Homo sapiens: one gene and its partners. The protein of the gene in region 4 purifies or fractionates together with the protein of the main gene of each other region. This does not show direct contact. Each region holds a gene or a part of one and is shown on either strand. Other genes may lie near its edges.

Evidence for each region. The genes of interacting proteins can lie anywhere in the genome.
Region 1: the proteins of SLC26A5 (region 4) and NAA25 purify together in Homo sapiens (affinity purification with mass spectrometry; one large-scale study listed by BioGRID and IntAct). This does not show direct contact.
Region 2: the proteins of SLC26A5 (region 4) and TBX18 purify together in Homo sapiens (affinity purification with mass spectrometry; one large-scale study listed by BioGRID and IntAct). This does not show direct contact.
Region 3: the proteins of SLC26A5 (region 4) and PALD1 purify together in Homo sapiens (affinity purification with mass spectrometry; one large-scale study listed by BioGRID and IntAct). This does not show direct contact.

What each region holds. Positions count from the first base shown.
Region 1 is NC_000012.12:112,026,189-112,028,783, forward strand, and holds the end of NAA25 (N-alpha-acetyltransferase 25, NatB auxiliary subunit), read right to left. Parts: 3' UTR 501-2,595; downstream 1-500. UniProt on the Homo sapiens protein: Non-catalytic subunit of the NatB complex which catalyzes acetylation of the N-terminal methionine residues of peptides beginning with Met-Asp, Met-Glu, Met-Asn and Met-Gln. May play a role in normal cell-cycle progression.
Region 2 is NC_000006.12:84,744,099-84,747,598, forward strand, and holds part of TBX18 (T-box transcription factor TBX18), read right to left. Parts: intron 2,677-3,500; exon of another isoform or gene 2,619-2,676; intron 228-2,618; coding exon 163-227; intron 1-162. UniProt on the Homo sapiens protein: Acts as a transcriptional repressor involved in developmental processes of a variety of tissues and organs, including the heart and coronary vessels, the ureter and the vertebral column.
Region 3 is NC_000010.11:70,481,767-70,485,266, forward strand, and holds part of PALD1 (paladin), read left to right. Parts: exon of another isoform or gene 1-1,298; intron 1,299-3,500.
Region 4 is NC_000007.14:103,408,208-103,411,707, forward strand, and holds part of SLC26A5 (prestin), read right to left. Parts: intron 3,380-3,500; coding exon 3,213-3,379; intron 2,343-3,212; coding exon 2,178-2,342; intron 1-2,177. UniProt on the Homo sapiens protein: Voltage-sensitive motor protein that drives outer hair cell (OHC) electromotility (eM) and participates in sound amplification in the hearing organ.

The DNA of each region.
Region 1 (2,595 bases), on a different chromosome or scaffold from region 4:
CTTGGGGCATTTGCATGTGTGTTACTTTTTTCCTGACAGTTCATCATTCAGATCAGAGGTCACCACTTAGGAGGTCCTCCTGTGACCCATTCTGAAGTGACCCTCTAGACACACTCAATTCACATACTGTGATTTACATTATTAAGCAGGATGTAATTACAAACTAATATTTTTATTGCCTCTTCCCCACCTCACAGCCACTAACTAGGATATATGTTACTCACTTACTAACTAGGACACAGGGTCTCACCAGAGCCTAAAGTGGAATCTGCTATATGCTAATTTAAGTGTTCAATACATATATGTTGAATTAATAACTGCAAGTACAGAAGGTACTAACTTTTGAGTCAAAAGGACTAGCTGACTTCAAATAAAAATTCTAAATTCTCAAATATTAAAAATATGTTGGGATATAGCCCTAAATTCACAACTGAGATGAATTACACCATTCAGAAGGTTGTGGCTTCTAAGAATCTGAACAAAAAGGAACCAGGCAGAAATGCCAACTTAAAATGAAAATGTTTATATAAATTAACCCATCCAGTTTAAAGTAGATTTGCTATGCTTCACTTACTTAAGGAAGAATATATACTTCCTATATTAATAAATCACATCAAATAAGTAGGAAGTTTCAATAACAAGCCTGTAGATACATTGAAACCCCTTTTTATATTAAAAGTTAAAATGAAAGACAAATCCAGATTGAACATAGTGATTGCAAAATATAATGCAATTTTCAACAATTAAAATTATGAAAATATACAAAATTGATGGGCAACACAACTAGGCATTTGTACATTTTCCATTATGTGGAGAACACTACAAGTTTCTCTACCTTTTATCTACATCAGATAAATGATTTAAACCAAATGTTTGCTTTGGAGAGTCTTAACTTAGGATCTCAGTAGTATAAAAAGCAATAATTTTTCAGTCTGTAAACAGTAGTCGTGATTTTTCTCCTTTCCTTTTTTAAATATCAGTTTACCACACAAAAACAAACAAAACAAAAAAACCCATACAAATCAAAAACAGCAGCAGCAGCAATGGGTTATTTGGGAATTCTCTTCAAATACCAATGGCATACGATTGCTGGGAGAGGGTGCTTTTTACTCATGTAAGAATATATATATATATATATTTTTTTAACTGTACACAATTTATAGTACATGAGGGTTTCCAAAAGAACAGATTGATAAGAGATATTGGCCATTTCTGCATAATTTCATTCTTTTTACAATTATCTCAAAATGTGAAAGCTGGATCTAATTGAAATGCTACATTTAGTAGGAAAATCAGCAAATAACAAAGGAAGCATAACCTCAACATAACATTATTTGTCATTAAAGCCAGTAGAGGTCCCAGATATCTTTAGGCAAGAGACTGGTTAGGAAGACCACTAGAGTCACACACTGTCCCTGAGGACCAAGGCTAGCCCACTGAACATACATATGCTAGATTGATCATGGTCAGTCGATAGACTTTTTCAAAGAGCATTTCTACAGTACAGTACTTTTTTGGATATTCAGAGAGACATCATTTCAAGAACACACGCCATACACATGTACCCCACCCTCCCCAGCAGACACACACAAAGTTCCATCTTAAACAGGCCATAGTTTTATGAAAGAATATGTTGTCATTACATGAAATTCAGAATTAACCACAATTTTCCATTCATCTTGTTCAAGACAGTTCTTCCTTTTGGGATAGGGTATATGACCAGCTGTTGCTACTCATATCAAAAATAAATTTTTGAAATTAGTTGATGGACTAGGATTTCCAACAAGCCTTATTTTGAACAGGTAATGTAGTAATTGTTTAAAATTTCCTTGGAAGTTTAAGCACTGTATCAAATTATGAATCTAAGAAAGTCAAAATGAAGGGACAAAATGCAATTACTTTGCGTACACAGATATTCCCAGCTCTCTTGGTTGCTTTTAAAAGAAAAAAGTACCACATTTCACTGGAGCAGTGCAGGTTGGAAAGCACCTTTAAGGTCTTCAAGACCAATCCTCCATTGGATGCTTAATTTCCTCATCAAATTCATTTCTTTGCTCTTACAGAATTAAACTTGAACTATATTTAGGTAACAGACCAAAAACAGAAGCAGGGATTTAAACAGAAAAATATTATCAAAGAAACTGCATAAATTGTAGGACATTTTCAAGAGCAATTTTTACCTCTTCTATCAGACCAACCACTGATAGAAGAAGCTAGAGTCTTGGGGACATCCAGGTGAACAAAGTAAACACCATCCTGTTATAATTCTCTAAGTTTGAAGAAAGTAGTCCAAACCTCAAACCCACTGAATAACATTTCTTTTGCCAGCCTAAAACTTAAAGCCTAAGGCTAAATCCATAATATTACATTCCTTCCTTCCCAAACCCCCCACACTTAAAACATTAAAGTATTAAATCTTAATTTTCAAGTCATATATATATGTGTATATATATATATGTATATATATGACTCACAAAACCAATGAAATAAGTATCATACTTGCCTGCATAAATTATGTGCACCTCTCTTCTTTGAAACAGTCATTCCTATCTTTCCCAAATGTATGAAAGACAGAAAGCTAGTCCTCAGCGGGCT
Region 2 (3,500 bases), on a different chromosome or scaffold from region 4:
ATTACACTACAAAAATAAGTTATCTCCGAGGCACAACAGTCCTCATCAGAAATGATTTCAATATCGTATTAGTAAATTTAGCCATTTACTTTGTAATAGAAAATTCATAATAAAATATCAAATATATTTATCATAACCGGAATGGTCTTCACTAAGGCCCACCTGTTGCGCCCGGAGTCTCGGAAGCCTTTAGCAAATGGATTCCTATCTATCTTCAGGCGAGTAATCTGCAGAGTAGGAAAAAAAAATATCAAATCTTATATAAATGTCAAGCAAGTTTTTACTTGGTTGCAAAACTACAATGAGTCAAAAGTTAACTGTTAGAGGACTCTATTGTATAAGCCTCTTTTATTCCCCAAGTATTTTAATATCCTAGCAGTAAAGCTAAGGAAAATTTCAGAAATCATCTAGAACATTCATCTGCTCTAAAAAAGATACTTCACTCCTTTTCAATCTGCATTAATAGATATAAGTTAGTTTTGTTTTTTAATATTTCTGGAAAAAAAGATTCTGAATCATCTGTTGGTAACGTGCCCTATAATTGACAATTCCCTCTGAACTGAAGTTCTTCCCTTTAACTCTGAGATGTGGTTTAATCCTGTTTCTATCTCAATAAAGCTAATGAGGAATAACTCGTATCCAACTTCTATTTAACAGCCATTTAAATGTTGTTAAGCTCCTACAGAGCTTTCTCTTCTTTAAAATTAGGTAATAATGTACACATTCCTTTAATTTTCTGTCTCTGTATTTTTCTTTGTCTCTCCTTTAATATTCTTTGTGGCTTTTATCTGAAAGTTTTATTCTTTTATCTGTGGAGTCCTAACCTGGTCAGAGCACTACAGTGAATGTCTAACCAGAGGTAACCACTACTTGAAGGTTCTAATGAATCAAATCTCATACTAAATGGAGTAAAAATAAATGATGCTTTCACTTTAACTTTCTTTCAAAATAAATTGTATTGTGTTATATGGAGGTACACAACATACTATGAAATATGTATAGGTAGTAAAATGGTTCCTATATATGATGTTTTAGTTTTAACAAGAATTCTAATTTGTTGACTCATAACCAACTTTTTGCTCACTAAGACACCAAGATTAAGGGGGAAATTTTTTACAAATGGTTTAATTATCTCCATTAATAGTTTTTTTAGTTATGCCATCCTGAACTTGACACTAATAAATACCATCCCATCTGCTTATTACCAGATCTCCACTTTGCCCAGAGGAATTTACAGCCTATTTTCTAAGAGACACATCATGTTTTGGCTTCTAAATTCCTGGGCTTAATGAACTCTACAAAGTTAATGAACATACTTCTAATTACACCATCTTGGCTAAGGACAAAAACTGTTAAATAAAAGTCATCTGCAGTCCCCCTACATTGCTTGTGCACGCCCTCCAGTCAGCCACGCAACACTTAAGACATATGTGTTCCATATGATGTTATCTTAGTATGTGGATAAAACTATATTATAAATGATATAATGAAAGGGTTTGCTAATTAAGTCATCATGTCTGCCACTCTGTCATTGAAGGAATTCTTCTTTACAGATCAATATAGCTCAATTTTCTGTCTATTTTAATAATGTTTAAAAACATTAAGCAATGTAAATGTTCATTTAAAATGTTGTTTTTTAAAAAGTACAGATTTATATAATGGTGCCTTGTTAAAACAGAGACATAACACAATTGCTACTATCATCATTTTTATTACTAACATATGTATTGAGTGCATAAAATGTACACTGTGCTAAGTTTTCGGCATACTACTCATTTAATTACTAGAGCAACTTATGTATAGCTATTATCTCAGTTTTGTGTTTTATTTTAAACTGAAGCTTAAGTAAGCCAGGACCACAGGCTGCAGAGCTCATGCTATTAACCACTAATCTGCTAACAATGTTCCGTTAAGTTCTTAAAAATAGTAGCCAGGAAACTAAAAAGTAAATGTGACTGCATGTTATCATTATCAATTTCTCCTCTAATCTGTCCATCATCTTAATCAACTTCTCAATGTTCACTAATTTGTGTTAGTCACAACATGTACCAAAAGCTGACTGCATTGCACTTACTGTACCACAGAGGGTGGAAGAAAATATGCAAAGTGCACAGTTAATTTGTGTGTGAGAGAGAGACAAAAAGAGAGGAAGAGAGACAGAAAGAGGTGACGAATTGAGATTGTTAAAAGAATACTAAATGCCTCTGCTATTTTCTCATGTATTACTTTTTCTCCCAAAAAATCGTTTTCTGTCCCTAATATATTTTAATACATTAAATATATAATTATATCTCATAATATACTAAATATAATTATATTAAGTATATTATAATTATATATTATATAATATTTCGTATATTATATATTATTGTACAGTATATTATACTATTTATATATTTATATTGATATTTATAATTTTAATATATTTGATATATTAAAATCATAAATACATTTATTTATAATTATATACATTATAAATATATTTTATATAATGTATATATCTTATATATTTATTATATTAAATATATTAAAATTATAAATACATTATAATTATGTACTATATTACACATATTACATATGTTATATATAATACGTTAAATATGCTATATTAAATATGTTTGCTTCAGCAGCACATATACTAAAATTGAAACAATACAGAGAAGATTAGCATGGTCCTATTATTATTAGCATGGTCCTATATTATATCTATTAGCATAGATAATAAATAAATTATATTATTAGCATGGTCCTATATTATATCTATTAGCATAGATAATAAATATATTATCTATGGATCTTTTAAAAATTACATTTCATGTTCCTTCCTAAAAGCTTATAAAAGAGTGGCAACATGAGTGTGAGAGGACAGGACAGCTTCGGTTGTGATACTGATGTCTCCATACGGATAAGAGCTATTGAGCCTCTCAGCCCAAAGAACACATGGGATAGGATCCAAATCTTCTAAGAAGCTTTATAACAACAGAAACCACAACAGAGAGATTTAAAAGCCTTAAATTTGTAATTGAAATGTATATAAATGTAAAGAGAAATGGAGACCCAGAACAATTCTGCTGACCACTGAAATTGAAAAAAAAAAAAATCTACCACAGGCCACATCGGCTTATATTACATGGATATTTCTTATGAAAACCAGCTGGAATTCCAGCATGGATTACATATTGCCTCTGATTCAATTCTCTACCTAACTGACACATATAAACATAGCCTTAGAGAAATATATACATTTACCCATATAGAAAGGAAATATTTCACTTCTCACACTATTTCTAACTTTATGAAATAAGTATTCTACCATTGCTGATCTCTCAGACTATAAGCAAGTTTATCATCCTCTATCACAATTAAAGCATATCTTGAAAGAAATAGCCCTTTTGTATATGTACCAAAATGACTATACAGGATAAATGTTTCTGAACTATTTTTAGAATGTAGTTTAAAAATAAAGTAAGCTATCAAGTCCCATGCTCTATGATACAATT
Region 3 (3,500 bases), on a different chromosome or scaffold from region 4:
CTCTGCTAAGCCGTGGGCTTGCACAGGGAAGGGGTCCCCCACCTGGCTATGCTCAGGTCTCCTCTGCCCAACCTGGCACCTGAGAGACAGCCCAGATTCTAGATATGCTTTGATACTAATGCACCATGCAACCTCCAGCAAGTCAATTAATGTATTGGTTTCCTCATCTTTAGAGTGGGGTCAGTAACCTCTACCTCCTTGTGGGTTCAGTGGGAGAAAATCAGTGCAAAGCATGTGGCCCAGTGCATGGCATGGAGTGAGTGCTCAGTTGATGTGGCGGTGGGGGCCTTTGATTATGAGCCATCCCCTGTGGCCAGGACTCTGCAGGGCTTCCTCAGCAGCCAGGTGCATGGCCCTGGGCCTCTGGGTGAGGTCTGGAGCAGGCTGGGTGGGCCAGGCACCTCTCCTGTGAAAGCTGGAGGGCTTTGTCCTCAGTCGGTGCCCACTAGTCCCTCCTTAGCCCTGTGGGACCTCCATACACGGGGTCAGGAAATGGCAGGCTGGGCGGGCGTATGGAAGCTTGGGCCTGCTGACTGCTGGGCCTCTGGGAGGGGAGCCAGTGTTTGCTAAGAATAGTCCCAAATCATGGCTTTCGTTTCCCAGAGGGCAGCCCAGCCATGTGCTGCCCCTGTCTTGGGCCAAGGCACTTGCAGATGGACTTTTTATGTTTCCTGTAACTGGTGCTCAGCACAGGATTGAGCCTGGGAGCAGCAGGCTTAGTCTGGGAGGAGGCTCTGTTTGTCTTCCGAGGCCTTTGGCTGGGACCCGGGGAAAGAGAAGGTCTGGAAGCACTGGCCTTTATAATCCCTGAGTTCCTTTTCCACTCAGGGCTTTTCCTGACACATCTGCCTCGACCATCTTCCTACCTGCAAATAGACCTGTTGTGATTAAGAACACTGGCTCTGGAAAGAAACTACCAGGGTCTGAATTTCTGCTCCCTCCCTCATTAGCCATGTGGCCCAGGGCAAGAAACTTAACCTCTCTGTGCCTCAAGTCCCTTGTGTAACAGGGTTAAGGATAGCAACTCCCTTATGAGAATGTCACAAGGATGAAAGGAGGTAATCGCAGAGAGCCTCCGAGGCTGTCTGGCTCCTAGGAAGTACTCAGTAAACATTAGGTGCTTATGTTATTACCACGATGTTATTCTCTCAGCAGAGGCCAGGATGCTTGCACAGGACCAGTTGGTGGGAAGGGACCAGCGTGGCATCTTGATGTGGGTTCCTGAGCTTTCTTGGCCCTGGGTTCAGTATGAGGTGCAGGGGCTCCGAAGGTAGATTAAACTCTGTCCCTGCCAGGAGGTGAGTGAGGTACATGCAGACACCATGTCTGGTTCTGTGATGGGGTCTGTGCTAGTTATGGTTGGAGCCTGAGGGAGGGAATGGCTGGCCTGGGGTGTGTGTGATACTTCACGTGGGCTTTGAGGGATGGCCAGGAGTTTGCAAAGGAGGAGGGCAAGGCTTCCCCAGCAGAAAGAGCAGCGTGGCAGAGGTGTGACAGCCCTTGTGAAGCGTTTTGTGTATTTCCCATAACTGGCATGTGGGCTGACTTTGGCTTTAAGGGGTGCCCCTGCCTGGGCTGAAGCTGGGGCACTGATGAGAGAGGCAGGTGGGGTGTCTGGGTCATCTGCACACCCATGGAAGGCAGTAGAGAACATCTTTGGGAACTGGGTGTGTCACTGCCAATGCTTTGGGCTCCCAGGGAGCTGGGGCTTTCAGAAATTCCCCAAGGAGAGAGGATGTGGTGCTGTGAGGGCTGTGGGTACCCTGGGAAACGGCCAACAGGCTGGGCTGGGGCCCATGGGAGGGGAGAGGGGTGGGTGCCCTGAGATGACCTGGGACCCTGCCAGCTTCTGCATCCTGCTGAGCCCCAGGCCCTTCCTCTCTGTGGGCTGTGCCGGCCTCTGTCTGGCCTTCCCAGAATGGAGGCCTGGGACGCTGGGACATTTTTCGAAGATTCTGTTTGGAAAGCACAGAAGGGACTTCTCCTCCCCTTTTCCTTTTCCTGGAATGGAGAATCTCCTGAAGGAGTTAACCCCTTTCCTGCTGGTCACAGAGTGGCCCATGGATGTGTCCCCGGCTTTTTTTAGGATCACTGTTTTATTGTTGCCCTTTCTGTTACACGGGATGTATACATCAGGTGCTGAAAGGTACAACACATTCTGCAACTGAGTGCCACCTTCCATGATTGAACAGGCAAAGAAAGTACACTGAACATCAGCATCTGGCAATATATTTTTTGTTTGTTTGTTTTTTTTGAGATGGAGTCTCACTCTGTTGCCCAGGCTGGAGTGCAGTGGCGCATTCTTAGCTCACTGCAACCTCTGCGTCCCAGGTTCAAGCAATTCTCGTGCCTCAGCCTCCTGAGTAGCTGGGATTACAGGTGCCCACCACTACGCCCAGCTAATTTTTGTATTTTTAATAGAGATGGGGTTTCACCGCATTGGCCAGGCTGGTCTCAAACTCCTGATCTCAGGTGATCTGCCTGCCTTGGCCTCCCAAAGTGTTGGGATTACAGGCATGAGCCACCGTGCTCGACCCCAATATTTTTCTAAAAAAAGACTAAAATGGATTTAAATTGATTAACACTGTTAAATCACGTCTAATATTTGATACTACATGATTCAATATAGCTGAATGATGCAATGATAGAAAATGTGTTTACATCAAAGAATACAACCAAAATTAAGATAGCAAACAAAACCCATATACTTTTTTTAAACAGGAAAATACTTTTGAAGTGTACATGTAACTGCCCATTCTTTTATTTTATTTTATTGTTTGTTTTTTTTTTTGAGACAGAGTCTCGGTCTGTTACCCAGGCTGGAGTGCAGTGGCGTGATCTCAGCTCACTCAAGCTCCGCCTCCCGGGTTCAAGCGATTCTCCTGCCTCAGCCTCCTTAGTAGCTGGGACTACAGGTGTGTGCCACTATGCCTGGCTAATTTTTGTGTTTTTAGTATAGATGGGGTTTTGCCATTTTGACCAGGTTGGTTTCAAACTCCTGACATCAGGTGATCTGCCCGCCTCGGCCTCCCAAAGTGCTGGGATTACAGGCATGAGCCACTGCGCCCAGCTGCAACTGCCCATTCTTTTAAAGAAAATTTACTGCAAGCAAAGTTATCAACCTTCAGAAAATGCACACATAGTATTGCTAAGCATCCCCCATTCCAATATGCACACTTGGAAAATACAAAGTTAAACAAATTGTAAACAATAGGTGAGCTTCATATTTTTAAGAATATGGAAAGAAATCCCATTTTTAGCAGTGTTGTACAAAGAACTGTCTTTTCATGTGAAATTCATGAATTGTCCTTCTGTTGGGATCATACTTCACAAAACCACCATGTTTTTGAAACAAGATTACAGAGTACGAACATCTTAGCAATGTTATCTTATTATTAAAGTTAAATTTTTTTTTTTTACTATTTTTCAAAACATCTCCCTTAAGTATGTAGGATTCATCTTTAAAATTCTTCCTAGAAATAATATACAAAGGAGAGGTA
Region 4 (3,500 bases):
CTTTTTATAGTTGTTATTTATTTATTTATTTATTTTTGAGACACAGTCTTGCTCTGTTGCCCAGGCTGCAGTGCAGTGGCATGATCTTGGCTCACTGCAACCTCTGCCTCCCAGGTTCAAGCAATTCTCCTGCCTCAGCCTCCTGAGTAGCTGGGATTACAGGTGCCTGCCGCCACACCCAGCTAATTTTTGTATTTTTAGTAGACACGGAGTTTCACCATGTTGGTCAGGCTGGTCTCGAACTCCTGACCTCAAGTCATCTGCCTGCCTCGGCCTCCCAAAGTTCTGGGATTACAGGTGTGAGCCACTGTGCCCAGCCTTATAGTTATTCTTATCAAACAATTATTCTTATCATATGCTGATGTCTCAATGTAATATTATAAAATCCAGAAAAGGAACCCTGAAGCTGAGTCCTGAGCAATTGGAAAGAATTAAGGGTTGATAGCAAAGTACTCCAAAGGTAAATACATTGAAAAGCTTTTAGGAGCTCAAAGAGAGAGAAATTATTGTTAGCAGGACTTTGAAGTCAAGAGTGCTGATGTTTGGGAAAGGAACCTAGGAGAACTAGAGAACAAATCCACTTAATTATATCCTAGGGTTACCAACTGGGCACCTCAAATATAGTCAGTTCTCATTTGAAACCCAATAAAGTAGACTTCCCACTCAGCCCACAACATGCACCCTTTCCTATCGATGCCTAGAGTACTCAGTATGTTTTATTTCCTTTGTGACAAGGCATTTCGACAAGTCTCAGAGTAAGAAGTATGATAATAGCTATTATGGGAAACTAAGAATTTTGTTATTTAGAGAATATTCCTAAAGCCTGATTCCATTTTTATCAGTCAGGGACTCAACTTAAATGTCAAAGTGCCTTTCCTAGACCCCTAATCTAAAGGTCTCCCTATTTAACTTTCAGAGCAGCTGGTACTTCTTCTTCATAGCACTCAACACAAATTGTAATTGACTACACATGTATGCGATTAATGGTTTACAATCTTCCCACTGTACTGAAAGCTCCAGAGGGCAAGGCCTGTATCTTCTTAGCTCACAGCTGCATCTTGGCACCTAGCAGTGTCTGGCACATAAATACCTACAAAGGCAACAGGCCTCTCTTTTCAAGGATAGCTTTAACAGCATCTCAGAGGTTTTGATATGTAGTACTTCTACTGTCAATTAATTCTAATTATTTCCTAATTCCCTCTTTATTCATGGGTCATTTAGAAATGTTTTTTGGTTTCTAAATATATGGGAGTTTTAAAGCTATGTTTAGTTTTTGATTTTTTTATTATATTGCACTGTGTGAAAAAACATTGAATTTTTAGAATTTGTGATCAGTTTCACATGATCGATTTCAACATGATCAGTTATTACCATTGTTCCTTAAGTGCTTGCAAATAATTTATATTTTCTCTGTGTTTGGTAAGGGGTCTATATAATTAAAAGATTCATGTTAGTTAAATCTTTTATAGCCTTACTTATTTTTTGCCAGTTTGAACTAGCAGGTTTTGTTTTTTTTTTGAGACAGAGTCTTGCTCTGTCGCTCAGGCTGGAGTGCAGTGATGGGATCTCGGGTCACTACAAGCTCCACCTCCCGGGTTCACGCCATTCTCCTGTCTCAGCCTCCTGAGTAGCTGGGATCACAGGTGCCCGCCACCACACCTGGCTAATTTTTTTCTATTTTTAGTAGAGACGGGGTTTCACTTGTTAGCCAGGATAGTCTCGATCTCCTGACCTCGTGATCCGCCCATCTAGCCCTTTCAAAGTGCTGGGATTACAGGCATAAGCCACCACGCCCGGCCTTAATTAGCAGTTTTTGAGAGAGAAATGTTCTACCTTCATGCCTTTAAATTATTTGTTAGTTTCCAAAAAGATCATGATTTAGTTGTAAGAAAAAGCTCTCTCTTTACCTAGAGTGATGGTGCAGTCACCAAATAAAGACCTAGCAAAAAATTCCTTGTGAAGTAGGCAGTATCACATATTAATAACAGAGATTTTAAGGTTTAGTTCTCTTTGTAACACTCTTTTCAGAAAACCTTAGAATAAATGAATTTTTCCCTTTTTATGGAAATTACTGGAGAAAAAGAAAAATGAGTCTTGAAAGTAAAAAGAGATACAGAAGAGAAGGTTGGGGGGAATAAAGAGAAAAGTACCAGAACGTCAGGTAGTTTCTTACTTACATACACCACGGAAAAGATTCCACTGTACCGCTTTGTTTTAACTCCAAACAGATATTTTAACATGGAGGTGAAGACATGCACAGCTGCTGCGGTGGTAAACCCACGGACCAGAGGCTCTGTGAGATATATGGCCACAAATCCAAACCTACAGACACCTAGGCAAAACTATTTTTTTTTAATGACAAAGAAACAAATGAATCACATGATAGGTCAGGAAGTTATGACCCACAGCAAATATACAAGTTCTTTCTTGACCATTTTCTTTTTTTTTTGAGATGGAGTCTTGCTCTGTCACCCAGGCAGTGGCACAGTCTCAGCTCACTGCAACCTCTGCCTCCCGGGTTCAAGCGATTCTCCTGCCTCAGCCTCCTGAGTAGCTGGGACTAAAGGTGTGTGCCACCATGTCCGGCTAATTTTTGTATTTTTAGTAGACACGGGGTTTCACTATGTTGCCCAGGGTGGTCTCGAACTCCTGACCTTGTGATTCGCCTGCCTCAGCCTCCCAAAGTGCTGGGATTAAAGGTGTGAGCCACCGCGCCCAGCCTCTGGACCATTTTCTAACACTGCAAACTTGTACCTCAAGTGGGTAAGTAGCTAGAAAATCAACCACTGGTTATACAGAAAACAATGGAAGGTCTGGAGTGGCTTGGTGCCCCACAGTGCGCTGACCACACTAATGCCTTCCCTGTCTCTCATTGAGCTGGGGGCATGCTTCATCATGTAGACTAAAGTGCATGATCATGATCACTGGCTGTTTCTTCCAAGCAGAGAGGAATGTCCTCTCCCAGCACTAACCAATCCTGCCGTGTCAAACTTGTCTTGCTTTTGGGATCTTTAAAACACCCACCTGAAGCTTGCTTGCTCGTCACTCATAGTTGTGAATATGGCATGCAGTTGGTCTGCAGTTACTCCCAGAGCTCTGGGGTTTTTCTGGCTGACCCCATCCACCGTGTAGTAAGACCAGCCAAGAGCACTCAGTAGATACTTGTTAGGTTAACAAACGAGACAGTCCATTTCCCCATCTTTGAGCCTTACCTGAATGATTCCTGAAAGTAAGGTCACAGACATGGCGACTTTCACTCTCAAGGCATCTCTGGCCTCTGTGCCATTGGTTGCATTTACTCCTCCTGGAATGACTATATCATCTGGTACTAATCGAACAGCTACACCACCAATCATCAGGCTAATAACAGCAAAAGGACCTGAAATAATGAAGCATGAAGATCCCTGTTCAGGGTTCAGAGTATCTGATATGGTTTTTGCCAGTACACCAAGAGACAAAGGTGAGGTCAAGAAATCATGCTTGAAGGAAGGCTACGCTCC